3 separate regions of the Homo sapiens genome follow, and regions 1 and 2 are each linked to region 3. The links come from fine-mapping of genetic effects on gene expression. A gene starts in region 3. Each other region holds a variant in brackets. All regions are shown on one strand. Distances are between the middles of the regions. Region 1 has its middle 75 kb from the start of MPP7-DT. Region 2 has its middle 21 kb from the start of C10orf126. Region 3 holds the start of MPP7 (MAGUK p55 scaffold protein 7).

Evidence for each region. PIP is the estimated chance that this variant, and not a neighbour inherited with it, causes the effect.
Region 1: its variant is fine-mapped to the expression of MPP7 in cerebellum (GTEx, PIP above 0.99). The same link has a PIP of 0.9 or more in cerebellar hemisphere.
Region 2: its variant is fine-mapped to the expression of MPP7 in lymphoblastoid cells (GTEx, PIP above 0.99).

Annotation. Positions count from the first base shown.
Region 1 is chr10:28,373,832-28,382,346 of GRCh38, forward strand. No RefSeq gene overlaps it. Among named protein-coding and RNA genes, the nearest start is that of MPP7-DT, 75 kb to the left of the region's middle. The variant C/T (reference allele first, on the strand shown) is at 5,338.
Region 2 is chr10:28,820,982-28,829,496 of GRCh38, forward strand. No RefSeq gene overlaps it. Among named protein-coding and RNA genes, the nearest start is that of C10orf126, 21 kb to the right of the region's middle. The variant G/A (reference allele first, on the strand shown) is at 3,338.
Region 3 is chr10:28,298,768-28,307,282 of GRCh38, forward strand. MPP7 (MAGUK p55 scaffold protein 7) reads right to left here and starts at 4,297. Exons shown (of 17, transcript NM_001318170.2): 1 at 4,094-4,297. It overlaps MPP7-DT (MPP7 divergent transcript), which reads left to right and starts at 4,402. Exons shown (of 2, transcript XR_930772.3): 1 at 4,402-5,662; 2 at 6,632-7,504. RefSeq lists a silencer at 3,844-4,483.

The sequences.
Region 1 (8,515 bases), 75 kb after region 3:
GAAAGAATAAAATCTTGAAGATATCAGAAGAAAGAATTTATGAATGAAAAATTACAAACCAGGCCATCATTTAAATAAACAAATACATTCGAATGGAGTTATTTGAATAAGAAAACTCCTCCATCGACATAGTCTAATTTATGAAATTGTCACTGAGAAAAACATAAATGAAAGAAGAAAAATTGTAAGAAAAAAATCAAAATCATTGGAATAGATTAGACAAATAAGAGACCATTATGGACAATTTATATTTTAAAATAGACAAATGCACATTTTCAAAAAATTAACAGCAGAAGAGATACAAAACTGGAAAAAAAAAAACAAAACAGGAATGTATTTCCCTGACCTGGGTCCCACTAAATCCTCCCATGAACATTCCAATGAGAACACAGTTTCCATCTCTGTAGCTTGAACTCCTACCCTTGGCTTCCTCCCTTTCTCCATCCACCCTCTCTTTGCCCAGCACAGACCCCACCTCACCCCACAGCCCTTCCTGCACCGCCACCCCATCCCATCCGCCCCTCCAAAGCTACCCTGGCATCTTGTGGAACTCAGGCTCAATTATAAACAAGTTTCCTTACAAGTTAATGTATTCTATTAGTCATTTACTTTTTAAACTATTGTGTTAATTGTGAATAAAACAGAGCAAAATCCTTGTTCTCTGATAACTTACATTTTAGTTGTGGAAGGCTGATAATTATAATTATGATATAAATATATAGGTACAAGTATTATACATAAAATATATAAATATATAATATAATGCATAATACATAAATTCATAATCAATATATTTCCAAATGGTTAGCATTTCACCATTCAGGTGCACTTACCCTTCTGAGACCTTACAACTACACAAGTTCTGTCTGCACACAGGAGAAATTTTATTCTGGAACTCAGCTAAATGCTACTTGAAATTTTTTTTTTTTTTTTTTAACGGAGTCCCTGTCACCCAGGCTGGAGTACAGTGGCACTATCTCAGCTACTGCAACCTCCCCCTCCCAGGTTCAGGCAATTCTCCTGCCTCAGCCTCCCAAGTAGCTGGGCCTGGCTAGTTTTTTGTTTGTTTGGTAGAGACAGGGTTTCACCATATTTGCCAGGCTGGTCTCGAACTTCTGACCTCCAGTAATCTGCCTGCCTTGGCCTCCTAAAATGCTGGGATTACAGGCATGAGCCAACGCGCCCGGCCTAAAAACACTTTTTTTTTTTAAAGGTGCAATCCGCCATGTGACTTTCTCTTAGTATTGAATATTTTTGTTGCATTAGTTTTAACTTGATGTTGGAATGTTATTCCTGTAGCAGAAAATACTACACAGCTGTCAACTGTGTTCCTTAGTGCCTAGCCAGAAAAATATTTGGAGGCTATTTCAAAAGTCCTTCTTCATTTATGTGGCTTTGCTGATCAACTTTTCAATCAACTACTGAAATTATAGTTTCCAGTGAAGAGAGAGAGAGGGGGTAAAGTGGTGGGAAGTAACCCATCTAGATGTGCAATAATATCAGAAAGAATTTTCGAAGAATTTATTTGGATTCTAGAAGATAAAAGGAACTATCTCATTCTCATTCAAAAAGATTCTCAGAACAGTGAAGACTTTTAAAATACATGTGTTTCTCTCTCCCCCCCACACACAAAAAAACGTTAAAAAAAAAAATCATAATCAGTTGGTGATAAGGCAACCGGAGAAAAATAAAGCAGGCACTGAGTCTCCTTAGCGCTAAATTTCTGGCTGCCTGAAATGCTGTCAACAATTGCTGGATGGAGTTTCTTCTGCCTCCACCCCCTGCATTTTGCCAAGGTCACCTATCACACCTTTACCTAATTATCTAGAGCAAATATAGTTCACATGTAGATATAGTAATGCATTTAATCCCTATAACAAGCCCATGAGGTAGATATTATTATGTCAATGTCACTTTTTTTTTTTTAACATACACAGAAACTGAGATACAGAAATTAAGGACATTTCTTAAGGCATCACAGATAGAAAGTGGCTGAACTGGAATTTCAAGCCCAAATGCCTGTCTCCAGGGTTCCTGCACTTTACCACTTCAAGTCTGTCCACACTCCCGCTGAGTCATCTCACAGCCACTCCTCCAACTGACCTCCTCTGCTTCAAAATGTTGAGGTATGTTCAGTCTTCCCTATATTTAGAAGTTGTCATTCCTCTTTTCCAAGCCTCTTTTCCTGTGCCTTTACCCTACTTTGTACCTCCAATTATATACCCTTCTTTTACGAGGCACTGTCGTAAAAATTAATATGCCACGTTTTTGCCCTGCTTAGTACATGAACCCTTGCTTTAGTTGTCCTGAGGGATCTGTAAACCTGGAAGGAGATTAAGATTATTGTCACCAAAGCAGGCCGGGCATGGTGGCTCATGCCTGTAATCCCAGCACTTTGAGGAGCCAAGCGGGCAGATCACTTGAACCCAAGAGTTCAAGACCAGCCTGGGGCAACATGGTAAAGCCCTGTCTCTACAAAAACTACAAAAATTAGCTGGGCGTGGTCATGTGTGCCTGTAGTCCCAGCTATCTGGGAGGCTGAGATGGGAGGATCGCTTAAGGCCAGGAGGTAGAGGCTACAGTGAGTCGTGATTGTGCCACTGCACTACAGCCTGAGCAACAGAGTGAGATCCTGTCTCAAAAAGAAGAAAAGATGGTTGTCATCAAAGGAATGGCAACAATTTCTAAAGAGAGTCATGGGTCATCCCCTGTAGCCCCTACTCTTGCCCACCTCCATCCCTGCATTTAATCCGCTAGGCTCTATGGAATCAGCTCACAAAGGTCTATTGTGCGAGAAAGCCCTAAGCAATGTAAGGTTTAGCAGAGCTCCAGGGGACCAAGCCAGGAAGCAGGAGAAGGGGGCAGTGGGTGGGGAACTGTGAGAAGAGGAGAGAAAGGCGTAAGGCTGGGTGATTCTGTGTTCTAATGCTCCCCTTCCAGGCTCTGCCCTGGAAAAGGGGAAGAGGTCAGAGGAGAGGCTCCTGCCCACTGCCCATTTAGGACTCCAGGGGTTCAAAGGTGTTACACTGTGAGATTCAGCCACATCAATTGGCTTCCATGAACAAACTCCATCACACCCTCCCTATCTTTCTCATTTCCTCTTCTGATTTTTTACCTCTTCTTCCATCTCTCCTAGTTCCACTTCCGTCTTTCAGTCTTTGCATGCGGGTGTTCTCCAAAGTTTTGAACTCAACACTTTTGTGATCTCATTTTTTTTCTTATGATATGAACTGTCACCTGTAGACAGATGTTCCCTAAATCCAGATGTCTGGTTATAACTTCTCTCTTTTGAATCTCTGTATTGTATCTCAAGCCCTCTTAGATACTTCCACCTGTTCTCTTTGCCTGTAACTTCAATTTGATACAATTAAACCCACATCTATTCCTGCCACCTTCCAAACCATCCTTCCTTCTTTCCTGTAAATGTTAAGGGCACCACCACTCTTTGTAAATTTCCCTACTTTCTATGTTGAGTGAAAATCTTCAAACCATTCCAACACACGTTTACAATAACTTAGTAAAATGCCCAACACATATAATTACTATATGCCAGATGCCAAAGGCTTTCCATATAGTAATACATTTAATTCTCACCACAACTCTATGAGACTGCTACTATTATTACTACCATTTTATGGCTAAGTAAACTGAGGCATAGAGAGGTTGTCACCCAGCTAGTTAATGGCAGATGTTGGCATTTGAACCCAGGCAGTCTGGTTCTGCCATGTATTCTTAATAGATGTCTGTATTCTTTTATTTTTTATTTTATTTATTTATTTATTATTTTTTTTGAGATGAAGTCTTGCTCTGTCGCCCAGGCTGGAGTGCAGTGGCACAATCTCAGCTCACTGCAACCTCCACCTACTGGGTTCACACCATTCTCCTGCCTCAGCCTCCCGAGTAGCAGGCACTACAGGTGCCCACCATCATGCCTGGCTAATTTTTTGTATTTTTAGTAGAGATTGGTTTTCACCGTGTTAGCCAGGTTGGTCTCGATCTCCTGACCTCGTGATCCGCCCACCTTGGCCTCCCAAACTGATGAGATTACAGGCGTGAGCCACCATGGCCAGCCGACGTCTGTATTCTTAATTCTTATTACGTAATAAGGCCATGTTAAATAAAAAAACTGATATAAAATTGTATACATAACATAATCACAACTAGTAAAACACACAAGCAAAACACAATGTAAATAATTAGGTAAAGAAAAAAGACAAGAACGAAATATACCAAGATATCAATAGTGGCTATACTGGTGCAAAAAGGACTGAGAACAATTTTATTTTTTATCCTCTATTTTTTTTTATTTTTCCAAATTTCCTATTATGGGTATAATAGTTATAATGAAAAATAAATTAATACATTTTATTTTTAAGTGACTGCAATCAATTGAAACATGGAAATACAATTGTGGCATACTTCCCTCTCTCCAACAAAAAAATAACTTATACATCTGAATCTTGCATTCAACTTCACCATTCTAGTTCTGGCTATTATTTTCTCCCACCTACTTATAGACTCTTATATTTATAACCATCCTACATGCTGGATTAATCTTTTTTTTTTTTTTTTCTCTCTGAGACAGTCTTACTCTGTCACCCAGGCTGGAGTGCAGTGGCATGATCTCGGATCACTGCAACCTCCGCCTCCTGGGTTCAAGCAATTCTCCTGCCTCAGCCTCCCAAGTAGCTGGGACTACAGGCAGCGCCACTGCACCCAGCTAATTTTTGTATTTTTAGTAGAGGCCGAGTTTTGCCATGTTGGCCAGACTGGTCTTGAACTCCTGACCTCAGGTGATCTGCCTGCCTCAGCCTCGCAAAGTGCTAGAATTATAGGTGTGAGCCACCGCACACAGTCTGGATGAATCTTTTAAAGGCAATGTTTTCTTTATATCACTTCTCTATTCAAGAGATTTCTACCTTCCTGTTAGTCATGGAATTCTACTCAGGCTCTTTAGCCTGGCATTGAATTTGTCCGCAAGCTGGCCCTAACCTTCCCTGCAACCTTTTCTCCCATTTTTTCCCTGTATGTTTCCCATGATCCTATCAGTTTCATTTCGTTTCTTTTGCCTTGGTCTCTTCTAGTTCCATGCAGCTCCTCAGGTGGCGAGGTAGCCCTGACAGAGGTACATCAGCAGCCTGCACCCAACTTCTGGAGTGTTTTGGATTGGCTTATGCTTCTCAGGGACCCAAGTCCACTGGCCTGGTCAGATCTCCTGTGCTCCTGAGCATGGCCCTGCCCAGTAGCCTTCCCTGTCAGTCAGTGCTGGGAGCCAGGGAGCCAGGAGGAAGTCAGGAGGGAGCCTTCCTTCCAGAGCATTGCCAACCCTCTTCCAGA[C/T]GAGCAATCTGCCTAGTTTGTGGGTTCGTTCTGCTCTTTGTGTTCTATTTTTCTTCACGTTTTTCTGGCAGAAATGATGGCTTGGTGTTCTGCACAAGTCTAGCCAGGTTCAAGCTGGATCCTTCCCAGCCCTCTTGACTTCTGTATTAGACTAACAACTCAATTTCCGAAGCATAGGACTCTGCTCATTGAATTGGACCTCACTGAACGACCTGACCCATGCCCAAGGACACTGGGTCCTAGAGATCGCAGGACTTGAGCTACTTAAGTGTCCGCGCTGAGCCCTGGCTCTGCTGCCTCAGAACCTCTCTTCCAGATCTGCCCCATCACCCTGCCAGCCTGCATTGCCAAAATTGCATGTCAGGGTAACTGGGAGCTTTTCTGAGATTAAAGTTTCTCCCAAAATATATCCTCCTCAATCTTTCCTGCCCCTTGAGCCTTGGATTATGTCGTTCCTTTTGCTCAGAACTCTCCTATGAACACTTATAACTTTTCTGCCTTTTTTTTAAACCCCCTTTTTATTGAGACAGGGTCTCACTCTGTCTCCCAGGCTGGAGTGTGGTACTGTGATCATGGTTCACTGCAGCTCCAAATTCCCAGGCTCAAGCCATCCTCCCACCTCAGCCTCCCAAGTAGCTGGGAGCACAGTGGCATATGCCACCAGACCCAGCTAATTTTTTTTTTTTGTAGAGATGGGGTCTCACCATGTTGCCCAGGCTGGTCTTGAACTCCTAGGCTCAACTGATCCTCACGCCTTGGCCTCCCAAAGTGCTGGGCATGAGTCAGTGTGCCTAGCCTAAAAAAATGTTCTTTTATTGTGGTAAAATATACATAATATATAATTTACTATTTAAATAATTTTTAGGGCAGAGCTCGGTGGTTCACACCTATAATCCCCAGGGCTTTGGGAGGCCAAGGAGGGAAGATTACTTGAGGCCAGGAGTTTGAGACTAGCCGGGGCAACATAGCGAGACCCTGTGTCTATTATACATAAAAATTAAAGTAAAAACAAAATTAGCTGGCATGGTGGTGGTACCTGTAGTCCTAGCTACTCAGGAGCCTGACATGGGAGGATGGCTTGAGCCCAGGAGTCTGAGGCTGCAGTGAGCTATGATCACGCCACTGCACTCTAGCCTGGGCAGAGTGAGATCCTTTCTCAAAAAAAAAGGAAAAGAAAAAAAGAAAAATTAATCATTTTGAAGTATATAACTCAGTGGCATTAAGTACCTTCACAGTGTTACACAACCAACCTTCACCATATTCATTTCCAGAACTCTTTCATCATCCCAAACAGAAACTCTGTACACATTAAACAATAGCTCTCCATTTCCTCTCCCCACAGCCGCTATAACCTTTAATCTGCTGGTTTTTTTTTTTTTTTTTTTAGACAGGGTCTCCTCTGTCCCGCAGGTTGAAGTGCAGTGGCGTGATCTCAGCTCACTGCAACCTCTGCCTCCCGGGCTCGAGTGATCCTCCCACCTCAACCTCCCAAGTAGCTGGGACTACAGGCGCACACCAACACATCCAGCTCATTTTTGTATTTTTCATAGAGATGGTGTTTCACTATGTTGTCCAGGCTGGTCTCAGACTCATTAGCCCAAGCAATCTGCCCAACTCAGCCTCCCAAAGTGCTGGGATTACAGGCATGAGCCACCATGCCTAGCCTTTAGTCTACTTTTTGTTTCTATGAATTTGCCTACTCTTAAGTACCTCATATAAGTAGAATCATACAATATTTGTCCTTTTGTGTCTGGTTGTATTAGGGTTCTCCAGAGAAATAGAGCCAATCGTAGATAGATATAGGCAGAGACAGAAAGAAGGAGATTTATTATGAGGAATTGGCTCATGATCTTATAGAGGCTAAGAAGTCAGCCGTTTGTAAACTGAAGACCCAAGAAAGCTCTTGTGTATTTCCAAACTGAGTCTGAACGCCTGAGAACAAGGGGAATCGATGGTGTAAAGCCCAGTCCAGAGACAGGAAAAAGACCAACGTCCCCTCATGCTCATCCCAGAATAAACACCCAGCAAATATTTAATGTATTAAATACATGAGACGTTAATGAGTGACTCTAACAAATACAAATCAGAATCCTTCATTTTTTGACATTTGTATTGAAAGCGCCTAGTTTTTACTTACTAATTTCTACAATTTTTTTATTTTAAAAACTCTTAAAGAAGCATGTGTATATTATCTGATGTCGTTTTGCCAAAAATAATAATCTATTACAATCCTATAATAAGCTAGATATTATCTAATTATTCTATTAGGTTGAAATAAGCCAATGTTTGTCAGAAGGAAAAACTGACCCATGTAAGTGTTTATTTCAAGGGTTTTTCTTAACTGTGGATATCTGATCTTTGAGAGCTGCTGGTTTTAATTCTCATGCATCCTTCTGAGAAGTCACATTCTCAGAAGTTATTTAATTATGGAAAATGAAGAAGCCATAGGCTTATAGCATGAAATTCTAAACCTTGCCTGTCATAAATGTTGCTCAACAAAAGTTTCATATTTTGCAAACCAAGTGTTCCTCAGTAACACTCAACTACATAAGTTATGCTTGTCAGAGAGCTAATGGCATGGAAGAAAGAGGAGAAAAGTAAGGAACATTTAATAATAACTGGAAATGTACATTATTTCATGTCTTTTTTAATTCTATGATTCTTTTGAGCTGAAAAACTAAATGTGAAAAAGCAATCCAAAAAACAGTTTGAAATATGTTAAAAGTGAAGACAGAGATTTATATTGCAATACCCACCTCAGCCTTAACTGCGCTGTCTTCACCACAATCCTATAATTGTCTCATAAACTCCAAGCAAAGACCAAACGTTGACCACTGCTTTTCTCAGCAAAAAACATGGGCCTGAAATGTATCATGCAAGGTGTTACACTGCCACCTGCTGGTACGCCATCAATATGCATGGGAAAGAAAGGATCCAACACAGGACCTTTTTTCTCCTCCTTTCTCTCTTAGGGGTAATCTCCCAGAGGAGACAACGGTAAACTAGAAGAAAGGGAACGTGGAGGCCATTTTTCTTGGTCCTGGCAGTATAATTCAGCCTCCGAGATCTAGAAAGATTCTTTTTTTTTTTCATACGGAGTCTCGCTCTGTTACCCAGGCTGGAGTGCAGTGGCGCTATCTCCGCTCACTGCAACCTCCGCTTCCCGGGTTCAAGCAGT
Region 2 (8,515 bases), 520 kb after region 3:
GAGCCTGTCACCCAGGTATTAAGCACAGTCTCCAGTAGGTATAGTTTCCTAACCCGTTCCTCATCTCTTCTTCCTCCCTCTAGTTGTCTGCAGTGTCTGCTGTTGCCATCTTTATGCCATGTGTACTCAGATCTGCAGATCTCTGAGATGGGGTTGGCATGATGGGAAGAGGACATTGACATGGCATGAGAAATTCCTGAAGACAGTAGGGACCGGAGCTTCTGGGTAGTGCTTTGTTGTAATGAGAGGAAGGACCTTTTAGAAATTGATTGGCAGAATAGACAGTAAGTAAATTGAGCGACTTTATTGAGTAGTAAATGACAGAGTAGCTTGAGGAAAGAAGAGTTGAATAACAACTTGAAAGAGACTGGGAAGAAAACAGATTAATAATGCTTATGGGAAAGTTGAAAAAATAGTTTCTACTTGTTAGGAGAGATGTCCTGGAGAGGAGTAAGGCACTCTAAGTGCCAGCCTTCCTTCCCAGGTACCAAGTTATTGTCCAGGACTCAGGAGACTGATATGGGTTTAGAACCTGAGGATCTAAATGAGGGAGATTGGCTGGGCACAGTGGCTCATGCCTGTAATCCCAGCACTTTGGGAGGCTGATGCAGGAGGATCGCTTGAGGCCAGGAGTTCAAGATCAGTTTGGGCAACATAGCAAGCCCCTATCTTTACAAAAAAAATAAAAAAAAAAAAAATTAACCAGGCGTGGTGGCACATGCCTGTAGTCTCAGCTACTCTGAAGTCCAAGGTGGGAGGATCGCTTGAGCCCAAGAGTTCAACGCTGCCATGAGCTATGGTTGTGCCACTATACTCCAGCCTGGGCAACAGAGTGAGACTCTGTATCTAAAAATAAATACATACATACATACATACATACATACATACATACATACATACAAAGGAGACCTAACAGCTAAAACATCCTGCCCAATGGGATGACTCCTTACTGGACAGCGGCAAACTGACCTGGCTTCTTGGGCCAGGAAAATCACATGAAATGGGTCTACAGCTCAGGTTGGATTCTGAGCAGCATTAAGCCAGCACTGCTTCAGCTCTCCCCAGGGCCTGATGTATGTCATGAACTTGGAAGCACCACGATTTGCCTGTCTATACTGCTGCTTGAGCCTGCTTTTGGGCTGTCCTAGTTTCTTGTGTATTCTTAAGTCAAACCCCCTCGATAAAGATGATCTGTGTGTCTTATCCACGCACACATTCAAGCCTGATCAGTTCAGGAGATGATCTCCTCTATGTATCATAAACTCAGTAATAGTTTCTAGACATTGCAAAGTAGGAAGAAAGAGACCAGAATGAACAACTAGGGAAATAGGAACACAGGGAGTCATTTGAATAATAGATTGTTATTGACGCCAGGCTAGTGGACACTTGCTGTCTGGAAGAAGGAAAAAGTTAGCTGCCTTTTTGAGCGATAGGGGTGTGGTCAGGTTGAAAGAGCCCTGGAGTGAGACCCCAGAAGATCTAAGCTTTACTTCTAGGGAGCTATGCAACCCCTTACTTGGCCCCAGTTTCAATTCAATTCTAAATTTACAGAGTCCTTCCTCTACGAACAAGATTCTGGTTGGTCAGGCTTCAGAGAAGCCTGAAATGAATGAATTAGGCAATGCCGCATAGGTGCAGCAGAGTGGAGAGGCTGGGGTTTCAAAGACAAGTGCACAACAAACCCTACTTTAAGCAGAGCAAGACTGAGATGAGTGCTCTCTTTGGGTAGAAATCAAGTGTTATGGAATCCCCACGATGACTGTTGGATGAGATGGGTCTCTGAATGTAAATTTGCAGGTTCTGCTCTTCTCTGCTGGAAGCAAGGGTTATCTCCATCTGCTTCCTGACACTGCTGAAATGCGAGGCCTGTCAGGCAGAGGGGCAATGAACTCTTGATTCTGGTTCCCGGGCTGGGACTCTGAGATATGATGAAGGCCTCTTTACATGCAGGCTGACAGAGCTGGTGAAAGACGGACAGGGAGTTGTAGAGGGAAAGGAGAGGATGTGGGGTCGCCCTCTTGTCCCTTTTAGTCGGCACTGGTCTTAATCAATGAAAGAAACCTCAGCGCCAGCACTGGAATCCTCCCTCAGCTTAATGTATTAAAGTGTTTTACAACCTCCCTTTGCTCTCCCGCCTTCCAGTCCCCCTGTTTCCTCCTTATCTATTATTTCCAGAGCTAAAGAAGTGAGGCAAATAAACTTCAGTGGTGGAGGGTTTCTTTCTCCTTTCCTCCCTTTGCCAGTTGGGAGCACGTTTCTTAGTGGGCGTACACCATCGGATTCTCTCTGCCTCTGCCTCTAACTTTCTCTCTCTTTCTCTGTCTTCCTCTCTCTCCCTCTCTCTGTGTCTGACTCCTTCTATTTTTCTCTTCTCCATTAGTCTTTGTTTCTCTTTCTCCACCCTGCACCCCTGAAATCTGTTACAATAAGACACAGGATCTGAAAACCCACGTGATTTTATCTCTGAAATTTGCAAACAGCAAACTAATTCGATGCAAGAGAAATGAAATGTTTTCATATCCTTTTAATTGCTGGACTCCTCTGCATCTTCTCAAGCACACATTTTCCAGACCATAAAAATGTTTGATTCTAAGTTTGTTTTGATTTTCAACCAGGGGCAGCAAATATAACTTTTTTCCCCCCTGTGGAGTCACTGACAGCTTTACTCAATTTCCAACCTATCCAAGCACTTTCCTTAAGAAAGAGTGTTAAGGTTTTTCCTTAAAATCACCATTTGCAAGGGAGGGGGAGATTGCTTCTCTGGTGAAATGCACTGATTGGACAGACTCTCGTGTTGGCTACAGTATTGTGGTTTTTGCTTGAGGATGAAAAACAAGTGGGTGGGAATATAATTTCTCTCTTCAGCTGAAAGCTATTTTGACTGTCTATTCAGGCAGTCAGTTGGGTGTATTCATTCATCCATTCATTCACTATTTCAACAATAATTTATTTAGTGGCTACTAAAAGACAGGTTCTGTATTCCAGATTTCCAGTTATTACTTAACTAGCACAGGATGCTGATGCCTTCAGTGACTTGGCAGATAGGACCATGTCAAGACAAATTAGCTTAAGGGCAAAAATAATTTATTACAGTTTCAACATAATGGTAGAAGTTTCAATTAAACAGAAAGTTACAATTCTAAATTTGTAGGCACTGAATCACATATAAAGCCTAAGTTAACAGTTTTAAGGATAAATCGAGGTTTTAAAACATCTCTCTCTTGGAATTAGTGATAGATTCACTAAAAAATCATTGGAGACATAGATGATTTGAACAGCACAATTACCAATATTAATCTACTGAGAAATGTACATACATATATATGTATGTATGTGT[G/A]TGTGTGTCTGTGTAAAATGTGCCCAGTTCCTGGTCAATACACATTCTTTTTAAGTACTCATAGGCCAATTTATAAATTGATGACAGTTGGCCCTCTGTATCTGTGGTTCCACAACTTCAGATTCAATCAATCTTGAGTAGAAAGTGTTTGAAAAAAAAAAAAAGGTAACAATAAAACAATGAAAACAAAACAATATGAAATAATAACAAAGCAAAAACAATGAAAAACTACTGATTAAAAACTACAATATAACAACTATTTACATAGTATTTACATTATATTAGGTACTATAAGTAATCTAGCGATGATTTAAAGTGTATAGGAGGATGTGTATAGGTTATAATCAAACACTACTCCCATTTTATATGAGGAACTTGAGCATCTTTGGGTTTTGGAATCCACGGGGGTCCTGGAACCAATGCCCCTGAGGGACACCTATACTTAACAGGTCATAAAGCAAGCTTACAAATCTCAAAGTCCCTAGCACGATACAAATAAACCAGAAATCAGTGTTTAAAAGATAAACTTAAAATAAATCTCTTATCATGTAATGTTAAAAAAGACCCATGGGCTGGGCGTGGTGGCTCATGCCTGTAATCCCAGCACTTTGGGAGGCTGAGGCGGGCAGATCACCTGAGGTCAGGAGTTCGAGACCAGTCTGGCCAACATGGTGAAACCCCGTCTCTACTAAAAATACAAAAATTAGCTGGGTGTGGTGGTGGGCGCCTGTAATCCCAGCTACTCGGGAGGCTGAGGCAGGAGAATGGCTTGAACCCGGGAGGCAGAGGTTGCAGTGAGCCGAGATCGTGCCATTGCACTCCAGCCTGGGCGACAAGAGTGAAACTCCGTCTCTAAATAAATAAATAAAACATAAAAAGGACCCATGGCTCAAAGAGGAAACCATTGTGGAAATTAGAAAATAGTAAAAATTGAATAAAACAGGAATATTATATGTTGAAACTTGGCAGACATAGCTAAAGTCATATTGTAGAGTATAATTTCTAACCTTAAATGCTTACCTGGAAAAAAAAGAAAGGCTATGTATCTATCTTAAGAAGATAAGAAGAAAGAAATAATAAGATAGAAATAAGAAATAAAATAAGAAACAAAGACGCAAAATTATCAAAGCCAAAGCTGCTTAAAATGACAAACTTTTTGTAAGATCAATAAAAAGAGAAATGACAATATCTGAATGAATGAAGTTCATAACTGCTAATGCAGCAGAGATTACATTTTACGGGAATACTATGATCAACTTAATGTCAAATACTTAAAAACTTAGGTTAAGTGGAAAAATTCCTAGAAACGTATAAATTTTAAAACTGATTTAAGTAATAAACACCTGAAGGGCCCTATAATTTTTAAAGAATTTGAGTCGGTAGTTAAAAATCTTCCCACAAAATAAACACCAATCCCAGATGTTTTTATAAGTAGTTTCTACTGTATATTCAAGGAACAGCTAGTTTCAAGCTTATACAAACTCAAAGAATAGAAAGAGACAGAACATTTTTCACCTATTTTATGAGACAAATGTAATCCAGATTCCAATAGCAAACAAGGACATTTAGGAGAAAAAAAGATCCCCAGACCAATCTAAAGACAAGAATCCTAAATAGCAAACCATAGCAAGCAATGAACAAGTACTGTTTATTTCTAGAATGATTGATTTAGCGTTATAAAATGTACTATGTCATACCTCATATCAGTAGTCTTGAGAAAAATCCTGTGATCATAATAGATTCAGAAAAAGCATTTGAGGAAATTCATAAACCATTCATGATAAAATCTTAGCAAGCAAGGTTTAGGATGGAAATCCCTGTACCGACAGCCAACATCTTATGAGTAGAGAATTATGAAAAGCCTTCTCTTTAAAAATCAGGCATGAAACAGGGGTGGCTGCTCTTGCCGCTGCAGACCAGCAGTGCTCTGGAGCACAAGCCGGTGTAAGGAAAGTAGAAAGTGTAAGAATCAGAAAGGAAAAAAATAAAATATTACTATTTGCAGATGATACGGTTTTCTACGTAGAAAACGCGAAAGAATTTACAAAGCATGAGAAATTTCACACACTCACAGTTGTATCAGGCAGGGTCTCTACAGGAAATAGGTGGCAACTCCAACGCAGTTGAATGACTGCAAAGGTCTGGGCGGGGCGAAGGGATACCAGCGAAGATGATCAAACCCCCGGGCAAGTAACAGCCAGGGACCCTCAGGCCTGGGAGGCAAGAATGGGAAGCAGAAGCTGGAGCGAATTTCAGCTTTAGCTGGAGCTGCAAGCGGGAGGTGTTTGTTTCAGGAGAAGAGCACAGTCACTGCCTACCGGCTGCCTGGTAGAGAAGGTGCTGGGAAGTAAGACCCAATTCACTCTTTTTATTTATTTATTTATTTATTTATTTATTTATTTATTTATTTAGACTTTGTCTCTCCCTCTTTCACCCAGGCTGGAGTTCAGTGGCTCAATCTTAGCTCACTGCAACCTCCACTTCTTGGGTTGAAAGTGATTCTCCTGCCTCAGCCTCCCAAGTAGCTGGGACTACAGGCGCCTGCCACCATGCCCGGGTAATTTTTGTATTTGTAGTGGAAACGGGGGTTTCACTATGTTGTCCAAGCTGGTCTCGAACTCGTGACCTCAGGTGATCCACCCGCCTCAGCCTCCCAAAGTGCTGGCATTACAGGCGTGAGCCGCTATGCATGGCTTTTCTATTTTATTGTTTTGTTTTTTGTTTTTGAGATGGAGTCTCCCTCTGTCACTCAGGCTGGAGTGCAATGGTGCGATCTTGACTCACTGAAACCTCTGCCTCCTGGGTTCAAGCGATTCTCGTGCCTCAGCGTCCCAAGTAGCTGGGATTACAGATGTGCGCCACCACACCTGGCTAATTTTTGTATTTTTAATAGAGACGGGGTTTCACCATGTTGGCCAGGCTGGTCTCGAACCGCAGACCTCAAATGATCCGCCCGGCTCGGCCTCCCAAAGTGCTGGGATTACAGGCATGAGCTACCATGCCTGACCTCCAATTCACTCTTCTTCTGCCCTCTGATCTCCCACCCATTGCTTTCTACTTCCAACATTCCAGGGAGTCAGGATCCAGAGAGCCTGTCGATGCTGTCCACAGAGTCAGTCTCCTGGGCACATGACATGGTAGGAAGGATGGAGGGTACACTTGGAAAGCAAAGGCAGGATAACCCAGATGCATCTGACAAACGCTGTGCAGGTCCTTCATGCAGAAAATTATACAATTGTATTCAGTTGTAATAAAAATGCTAAATAAATGGAGAGAGAACCATATTCATGGTAGAAAGACATAATAAAAATGGCAATTCTACCCAAAATGATAAGATACTTAATGCAATTTTAGTAAGAATGCCAAAAGGATATTTTGTGCAGAACTTGATAAGCAAATTCTAAACTTAATCTATTTTATTTATTTGTTTTTTTGAGACAAAGTCTTGCTGTGTCACCCAGGCTGAATCTCGGCTCACTGCAACATTTGCCTCCCGGGTTCAAATGATTCTCCTGCCTCAGCCTCCTGAGTAGCTGGGATTACAGGTGTATGCCACCATGCCTGGCTAATTTTTGTATTTTTAGTAGAGACGAGGTTTCCCCATGTTGGCCAGGCTGGTTTTGAATTCCTGACCTCAGGTGATCTGCCTGCCTTGGCCTCCCAAAGTGCTGGGATTACAGGTGTGAGCCACTGCAATGGTGATAAAATTTAAATAGAAGAGTAAATTGATAGGAATAACCAAGGAATAACCAAGACAATCTTGAAAAGAACCAGGTGGGACATGTACAAGATATCAAGATTATCTACAAGATACTTGACGTCTACAAGATATCAAGACTTACTATAAAGTTTTAGCAATTAAGATAGTGCCTATTAGCCCAGAGAGACAACAGGAATGGAACACAGAGCCCAAGAAAAGGCCTGCCAAATATAGCAGTTTGATCCACGACCAAGCTGATAATTGCAGATCAGTGTACAAATGGCAGATTATTCAACAAGGGGCACCAGGACAGTCGGTCATGTGTATGGGAAAAATCACGAAAGCCGTCTCACAGTCTGTTTTCAGATGACAATGCTGAAGTCAGAGGGCAAGGTGGATTACAGTCCAAAATGTGAAAGGTAAAATTTTAAAGTACTTGGAAAAAAATATAGAAAGAATATCTTTATGACCCTGGGGTAGAGCAGAATTTCTTTAACAAGCACAGAGAGCACAAATCATAAAGGAAAATATCAATAAATTCAATCACAATAAAATCAAGATCTTCTGTCCAAAAGACATCAATGAGAGACTGAAAAGACAAGTCATAATCTGAGATATACCAGCACATAAAGGACAAAGGATGAGTATTCTGTAATATAAAGTATATTCTGTATATTATATACACAGAATACTCAACCTTTTATATAAAAATATGTATACAGAATACTCATCTGTTTAAATGTTTATAAATTAATAAGGAAAAGATAAACACTCCAATTTAAAAAAAGGCAGAAAATATGAACAGGTATGACCTAGAGGAAGACATAAATAACTAATACACAAATGAAAAATGCTCGACCTCACTGGTTATCAGGATGATGATAACCACTATGAGACATCACTACACATCCTCTACAGTGGCCCAAATCAAAATGTCTTGCAAAGCCAAGTATTGGCAGGAATGTGGAACAAAGGGAGCTTTCAAACACTGCTGTGTTTGTGCAAGTTGATAAAACCATTTTATAAAATAATTTATTAGGAATTAAGTCAAACACATGCCGACCCTGTAAGCGAGTAATTAGACTGTCTGTGACATACAAAAATGGCAATTTCATGTGGTTCAACCTAATATATACCCTAAAGACACTCTTGCACCACTTTTGATCTGGAGACATGCATAAGATTCTTCATAGCAATATTGCTTGTGATAATTCTAAAAAGAAAACAACCTGAACTCAAATGTCCAGTGATGGCAGGATGGATAAGTATATTGATGTATACTAAGTAATGGTAGACTTTATATCACTGAAAATGAAAAACCTATACTCGATACAGGTCAAGAACAAAGTGTATGAAAAAAGAGAACCAAGCAAAACAAAAAAAGCCCTAAATTGCGGAACTTATATATGATTCAACAACAGGCCAAACTCAACAATATGTTAATCAGAGATATGTTCACATATGTTAAAATCTCTAAA
Region 3 (8,515 bases):
TGTTGTTCAGTGTAGCCACCTTCATCAGTGATCTTAGCTAGATATTCTGGATAACATGCTACAGCTTCTATATCAGCATTTGCTGCTTCACCTTGCACTTTTACATTAGGGAAGCAGCTTCTTTCCTTAAACCTCATGAACCAACCTCTTCTAGCTTCCAACTTTTCTTCTGTAACTTCCTTACCTCTCTCAGCCTTCATCGAATTGAAGAGAGGGTTTTGCTCTGCTGGCTTAAGGGAATGTTGTGGCTGGTCTGATCTTCTATCCAGACCACTAAAACCTTCTCTATATTAGCAATAAGGCTGTTTCACTTTCTTATCATTTGGACGTTCAGCAGAGTAGCACTTTTAGTTTCTTTCAAGAACCTTTCCTTTGCATTCAGAGCTCGCTTGTTTGGTGCAAGAGGCCTAGCTTTTGGCCTGTTTCAGCTTTTGTCATGACCTCCTCACTAAGCTCACTCATTTGTAGCTTTTTGATTTAAAGTGGGAGACACGCGACTCTCCATTCACTTGAATACTTAGATGCCAATGTAGAGTTATTAATTGGCCTAATTTCAATATTGTTGTGTCTCAGGGAATAGGGAGGCCTGGGGAGAGGAAGAGAGTTGGGGAATGGCCAGTTGGTGGAGATATCAGAACATATGTAACATTTATCAGTTAAGTTCACCATATTATATAGGTGCAGTTCATGGAGCCCCAAAACAATTAGAATCGTAACATCAAAGATCACTGACCAGAGATCACCATAACAGACAGAATAACAATGAAAAGTTTGCAATATTGTGAGAATTACCAAAATATGACAGAGACACACAAAATGAACATACACTATTGGAAAAATAGCACCAATCGACTTGCAGGGTTGCCAACGAACCTTCAGTTTGTAAAAAACACAGTATCTTCAGAGAGCAAGCCTGACTAACAATTTCCTTCACTTTAAATTCAAAATGAAGGAATACCCTTTCCTTCCGAATGTATCTCATTTAACAAAATTCAAGACTTTTTTTTTTTTTTTTTGAGACGGAGTCTCGCTCTGTGGCCCAGGCTGGAGTGCAGTGGCACGATCTCAGCTTACTGCAAGCTCTGCCTCTTGGGTTCAGGCCAATTCTCCTGCCTCAGCCTCCCGAGTAGCTGGGATTACAGGCGCCCACCACCACGCCCGGCTAATTTTTTCTATTTTTTAGTAGAGACAGGGTTTCACCGTGTTAGCCAGGATGGTCTCAATCTCCTGACCTTGTGATCCGCCCGCCTCGGCCTCCCAAAGTGCTGGGATTACAGGCGTGAGCCACCATGCCTGGCCAAAACTCAAGACTTAAGTCATTCATTACAATTTTGTCTGAATTGCAATTAGGAGAGAAACAGCTGCAGTACCTTTGTATCTTTGTCAGTGAAATGTTTATAACAAGGAAAAACAAAAATCTGTTTGAAATCTCCAGTAAGCGCCCCCCAGTGCACCATCTAGTGGAAGTCAGGTAGTGTCATAATTAATTTAAAGAAAAAAGTCACAGAAACTCTGAAAACCATTGGGGGAGGGGGAGAAGTCAAAGCTTCAGGTAAGAATACAAGCAAATACTTTACAAACAGCCAAAATATCTTTCCAGTGTCCCACAATGCAAGAGGGCTGGGCTTATGAGAATAAATGATTCATTTTCTGTATAATCAACAGATGATAAAAGTTCCTTTATGGAAATTTTTGCTTGGGTGCTAGAAATTTTGACAGGAGAGTAAAAGTTAAATAAAGCCACTAAAACATAAATAAGTAAATAAATGCTGGGCTAGAGTGACAGCCTTGTGTAAGAAGAGTTGCCTTATATGTTACATGAATATGTTAAAATGTACATGTGAAACAGAGGTATTAGCCACAAAACAAGAGATAACTTCATGATTAGAACAGTTACATTCAGGCTGGGTGCAATGGCTCACGCCTGTAATCCCAGCACTTTGGGAGGCCAAGGCAGGCAGATCACTTGAGGTCAGGAGTTCGAGACCAGCCTGGCCAACATAGTGAAACCCCATCTCTACAAAAATATTAAAAAAAAAAAAATAGCTGGGCGTGGTGGCATGCGCCTGTAGTCCCAGCTACTCAAGAGGCTGAGGCAGGAGAATCACTTGAACCAGGGAGGCAGAGATCACAGTGAGCCACAGCACTCCAGCCTGGACAACAGAGTGAGACTCCACCTCAGAAAAAAAAAAAAAAAGAGTTCCATTCAGTAATCCATAAGACATTTTCATGTTCCTGATAACTAGTAAATTTAACAAAACCTAACGATTCTCTAGAATTCCCTAAGCCTTAACATCATACAAGCGGCTACTCCCAACTACCCATTTCAGCCTGTCCCACACTAATGCCCAAACTCCTTTGGTCAAGTTATTCTAATTAAGAAATTATTCTTCAATCCGTCTATAAATTTACAGTAAACACTTCCCGAAACAAAGTCATAAGTCATGATCAAAATGCATTACACTTCATTAGTATTTTCCTTCTGCATATCAATTATTTCTATTCAATTCAAAAAAAGGTACCGAAATTCAATGCTGAGCTAGAGATGCAAACACAAATAAGGTTCTCTAATTTGGAAAGCTTCCCAAAATTTAAAATAGAGATTTTCACACAGCATTCCTAACTTTTGTTTGTTTTGCCTGTGTGGAAAATTACCTTTCACCTGAAATTCAAACTAGCTAAGCAACCTGAATGGAAAGAAAAACCTCGCAGATAATATTTCTTTACTTGAAAATAACCATCTCCACCTCTGACCTGTGTATACGGGATCAAATTGGTATGCAGAAGTTGGCTTGATGGCGGGAATCTTACCCAGATTTTGGATTAAATCCATTATAGGTATAAAATAAAGTAGGAGTAAAGTGGGGCAGGATTCCTTTCATTTCTAGGGCTTTCAGTTGACATACCTGTAAAATGGACATGCTATGCACAGCCTGCCTCAGAAGAGTAGGAGGATGGCATACTATATAATTGATAGAGTGCTATGAGCTTCACGATTAAATGGAAATACTGTTTTTATAGAACCAGAGTGAACCTGAGCATAGAAAACTCTCCAAGGGCCATCGCTGTGACATTACCGCTAAAACTCAGTGACCTTCATCAATTCACTTGTAAACAAGCAATATATTGAGCAAGTCAAAGGAAAGGCAGCAACAATTCAAGATACTTCTTTATAAGTAAATCAAATTACGTAATTAATAGCCCAGGATTTACCTGCAAACTATTACTGCCTGACTAGCAGGTGCATCCCCAAAGCCTCGAGTACAGAGACTGTTTTTAGAGAGCCCCCCCTTTTTTAAATGTGAATATTGCTTTTAAAAATTAGAAAAAGAAAAAAATCACAATTCTACTCCCACCCATGGCACAGTGACAGAAACAAGGTCCCACCCCCACAATCCTTTCAAACCTGCACAGGCATTCCTCACGAACACTCCTCCCCCTCATTCCTACCTCACCGCTCCCCACTTCAGCCCAGACAAAGCTGAGTTACTCGGCTGGGTCTACCTGTCACTTAAGAAAAAGCCCCCAAATAGATTCACGCTAAATGCTGCTTTTAATTTTTTAAATAGCAAATAAGTAAATAAATAATGCTATCGTGTAGATTACACGGCCAAACGCCTGTTCTCAGAAAACATGTAATTAACACGACCCAAGTGAAGACGCCTTTCTGGCTTAGGGAAAGAAAAAAAAGAAGCCAGCCAGCTTATCGCTCCCTTTCAGTCGGTTCTTTTCCCCGGGGAGCCGGACTCTGACTCAACTCCGCAGTTTTTCCTCCACCTGTCGGTTCTCCCCGCTCTGGGTCTGCCCCGCCGCCGCCCCCGCCCGGAGTCCCGCGCGTCAACAGGGGTCTCCAGGGGTCCTCAGGGTCCCGCCCGAGGCGGCCCCGCCCCTGCCCCGGCCCCGCCCCCACCTCCTCACAAGGTGCCCGCCGCGGGCTCCCAGGCTGAGGCGCCTAGAGGCCGGCAGGAGGCTCCGGAGGACCGCGGCACCGCTCGGCCCGGTCGCCGGCGCAGGGAGCAGCTTCGGGGGCCGACCCCACCGCCCGAGCCTAGCCCTGGGCTCCGACAGGCGCTCCCCAGAGGCGCCCCATTACCTGCTCTGGGCTGCCGCGGTCCGCGGGCAGGAGGCGCACTCGCTCTGGCCCCTGCAGCCCCGGGCCCGGAGGCAAGGAGGCAGCGACCGCCACCGCCGCAGAGGACAATCGGGAGCCAGCGGGCTCGGCACCGCCGCGGCGGGCGCAGAACGCACGAGCCCAGTGGGAGCCCGGCCCCCGCCTCCAGCCCGGCTAGTAACCAACACGGCCCCCACCCTCGGAGGGGCGGGACCGCGGTTGGAGGGGCGGGGCGGGGCTGCACCGCCCGCGGGTAAGAGGGGCCTGCTGATAGGCTGCGAAGGCGATAGGCGTCTCAGACTTGAAGACGCCTCTCCAGCAGAACTCCCTCATTGGTCGGCAAGAGAAAACAAAGCTGGGCTCTGATTGGTGACAGCTCTGTAGCTCCTCCTCATACCCGCAGTCCCCGCAAGTTCCACCCCTGCCCGCCCGGTTCGCTCGCCCTTGGTTCCCACTCCCAGGTGGCTGCAGACTGGAGTGTGTTTCATGGACGAGCAACCTCCCTGAGGAGAACCCCGGATACGCAGGTTCATTCGCCAGATGCGAGTTTTCTTAAGCCGCTGCGATTCTCTGATTTCAGTATGAACTTGGTGAATAACGTAATCTTTAACTTCCTTTGGATTCAGACAAGTCTCCTAGGTTTAAAAATGCTGCATAAGATTGAGAGGGATATTGTTATGCACGAAAAAAGACATAAGGTGTTTTCACCTTTGGCGACACTGTAGGTGACTTTTTCTTATTACCTTTTTGTGTTCCATATTGAACATGTACTACATGATTAGAAAAAAAAATTCTTAAATAGAAAAATGAGTAGGGTGCGGAGAATGGTAAAGACAAACTTTAAGGAAATCCAGAGAACTGATTCTTTCACAATAGAAGAAAATACAGTAAACATGCTTAATATCTGAGGGCTACCCCGAAAAAACATGAACTGGTATCAGCGCCCTTCAGCTCTCTTAAAGAACTTTACATATGTGACCGAGGTGCCCCCATACTCCTTCCTATCATGTAACCAACACATAATGTGGACAGCACTACACTGCAAACAGAATTACAGGAAGACTCTTATAGGAAGAATTAGAATCCAAAGTACACAATCAATAAAGCTTTAGAAAAAGGGGTAGTAAAAAGCAGAAGACAAAAAAAAATCAGGTAATATAAATTGGAAAGCTCAGCTGATGGAGGGAATCATCAGAAAAAAAATAATGTGACAACACTTCAAGATGTGATAGAGACTTTGAATGGAAAGCTGAAGGGAGAGGAAGGGGATTGAGATAAGGATCAATGACCTGCAGTTAATATGAGCTCTCAGAACACATCCCCCAGAACTGGTGTCAGCCTAGAAGGCAAGAAGCATTTCTCACCTAGGGACCACTCTCACTTAACTCTCTCTAGCTGCCTTAACATTCTGTTTGTTCTTGTCATTCTCGCAAAGTTCTAAAACAGGCTATTTGAAATTAAGCACTTCCCCCCAGCAACTCCGTGAATTACGTAATAGTGAAAAATGGAGATAGACAAAAAGCAAACCTGAGGAAGGAAAGGAATGTTAAGGTAAACATAAACTTAAAGAGAAGTAAGGGCAAAACACCTGATAGAAAGAAGACAAGAAATTCTTTTTTCTCTCTTACTTCCTGAGAATAAAGTAAAGGTCTTTGGAGGACAGAATAACCTTATTGCCTAACAAAAAGAGTTTTTACCAAACCTTTCTAATAATAACTGTAATTCTAAACTGTAGTCTAAAAATACGTGTCCTAAAGTAAGTACTTTGAGCAAATAGTTTTGAGATCTAATATTTTTACATTGTGTAAGGAAAAGAAGAGGAACTTAGCCTAGTATGAACAAACTGTAGGGAATACCCTTCAAAAGTTTCTTCTACAATAACACCTGAAATTCCATCACTAACATTCTTTCACTGGGATTAAATAATGTATGTCTAAGATTATTCTTTTATTCATTTACTCATCAAACGTAATCAATATTAATCATCAAATACTAGATACTGCAATGAACGAGGCTTTCTACTAAGCACTCAGAGTATAGCCTTGAACAAGACAGACTTGCAGCTGTTTTTATCAGAAGATGGACAATGATCCAATAAAAAGATAAACTTCCAGACCGGGATCAGGGCAAAGAAGAAAACAGTGACCAGAGGGATGGGAGACACACTTAATTTTGGGAAAGGAGAAAAATGCTTTAAGGAGAAATGATCTAAGAGAAATGCTCTAAGATTTGAGGCACCACCTAAATAAGAAAACACCAACTTAGCAAAACTCCAGGGCAGATAAAATAGCAAGAACAAAGGACTTGAAGTAGGAAGAAAAGTGATGTATAGCAGGAACAGAGAGAAAGCCAGCATGGGTATCATGGTGCATAAGGAGAGTGCTACTAGACAGGTTGGAGAAGGAGGTGAGGACCTCGTAGGCAATGGTAACTTTGTATTTTGTTACAAGGATTCCTGACGGGCAACATCGAGTTGCTGATAGTGGAGTAAAATCATTATTTTTTTTTTTCCTTTTTCAGAGTCACCAGTAAAATGAGCATTCATTCATTAAGCCAATCATCAGGAATGGATCTAGGAAGAACCTACTGTTTACTAGAAATAGGTTAGATCTGTGGATATAACAATGAATAAGACAAGACTGGTGGATCTATAGAGAAACTATTACTGCACAGGTGATGGGGAAATCAAGAGTACTATGGGGCCAAGGAGACTGTCCTGCAGCAAATGAGGAATAAGCTGAAACATCAGTAGGAGCCATCCCAGAGAAAAGGGACAGGGTTCTAGATCCAGAGAACAACAGAAGAGCATTCAGCGCCTGCAAGGGAGCAGGGGATCTAATGCAAAGCCATTGCATAACCAGTCAACTTTCCCCACATCACAAGATTGCCTAGCCTGGATGGCCCCAGAATGTTGAAACAAATGTCTAATTAGTAACGACATTCTGAATGCTTGGGAGCTGAGCAAAATATGAGGAGAAGCAACCTGATTTTTGTTTCATATTATCATCTCCTTTATTCCAGCAACAAAAGACACTGAAAATAGTAAATGCCCACTTTCAACCATGACAGCCCTTTTAGGATAGTAACGGTGAGCAGTATTAATCCTATTTGACCAGAACTAGGGCAGAATTGAAGCCCCTGGAGTAGAGATCTGTTCTATTAGCCCCAGCCTTTCCGCCTGCTTCTTGGGATGGCTATCTTTACTTTATCAGTTGAGCCTCCAGCATTAGCAGATACCTATAAGGGAAGAGATCCAGCCCTCACTATGGAGGGCCAGAAAGAGAAAGCACCAGACATTAGGAAATGTCAAAGTATCTCAGTACATCCAGCTGATTAGTGACAGATAAGTCAAAATTTGCAGCAACTAAATAAATCAAAAAGTAGATTTTAAAATGTGATCTTTGAAATATTTGGCACAATGCTTCAAAGCCACTGAAAAGCTATCTCTTCACCCTAATAGAGGACAGAAATTCATTAGATAGACAGAAGAGGCTGCATACAGTAGCCCATGCCCATAATCTCAACAACTTTGGAGGCCAAGGTGGAAAGATTACTTGAGGCCAGGAAATCAACACCAGCCTGAGCAACATAGCAAGACATCTTTACAAAAAATTTAAAAATTAGCCAGGTTTGGTGGTGTGCAGCTGTAGTCCTAGCTACTCGGGAGGCTGAGGTGGGAGGATTGCTTGAGGCCAGGAGTTCTAGGCTGCAGTGAACAGAGATTTTGCCACTGCGTTCCAGCCTGGGCAACAGAGTAAGACCCTGTCTCTAAAATAGATGATAGATAGATAGAGAGAGAGAGAGAGATGATAGATAATAGATAGTTGATAGATAGATGATAGATAATAGATAGTTGATAGATAGATAATAGATCGTTGATTGATAGATTAGATAGATGTATAATAGAACCCAAAGGCAAAAATAAGTTAGTCCTCAGGAAGACCCAGATCGCAGACCTGAAAAGCCAGGAGGAACTCAATGGAATTTTTTTCCATAGCAGGTGCTCTCTCTACACCTGTGCTCTATTCTCCTATTCTGATAACCAGCCCCTGGCTCCTATGTCCCAGTGTCAGAGAAATGATGTTCCAGAGCTGCACCCACAAGGACTAAATCACCTGCCTAACCCTAACCCTAATCATAGATGATGGGGGCTGCAGGGGACCAGTATGGCTGCCAGGGCCCATCCCTGTTTATGAGCAGAGGTTTCCCAGAGAAGACACACTGGGCAGATTACCAGACACGCATTCATTGCACCCCTGACATTTTCAATCGCCAGTCAATGAGGCTTCCTTTCTAGTTACTGAAAGTCTTCACCTGCTGTTTATAGTAAACTGGAGACCTAGAGGCCAAGGCCGAAGGCTTGGATGGTAATTTCCCACATTCTCTGGAAATCTTTCTACTTCA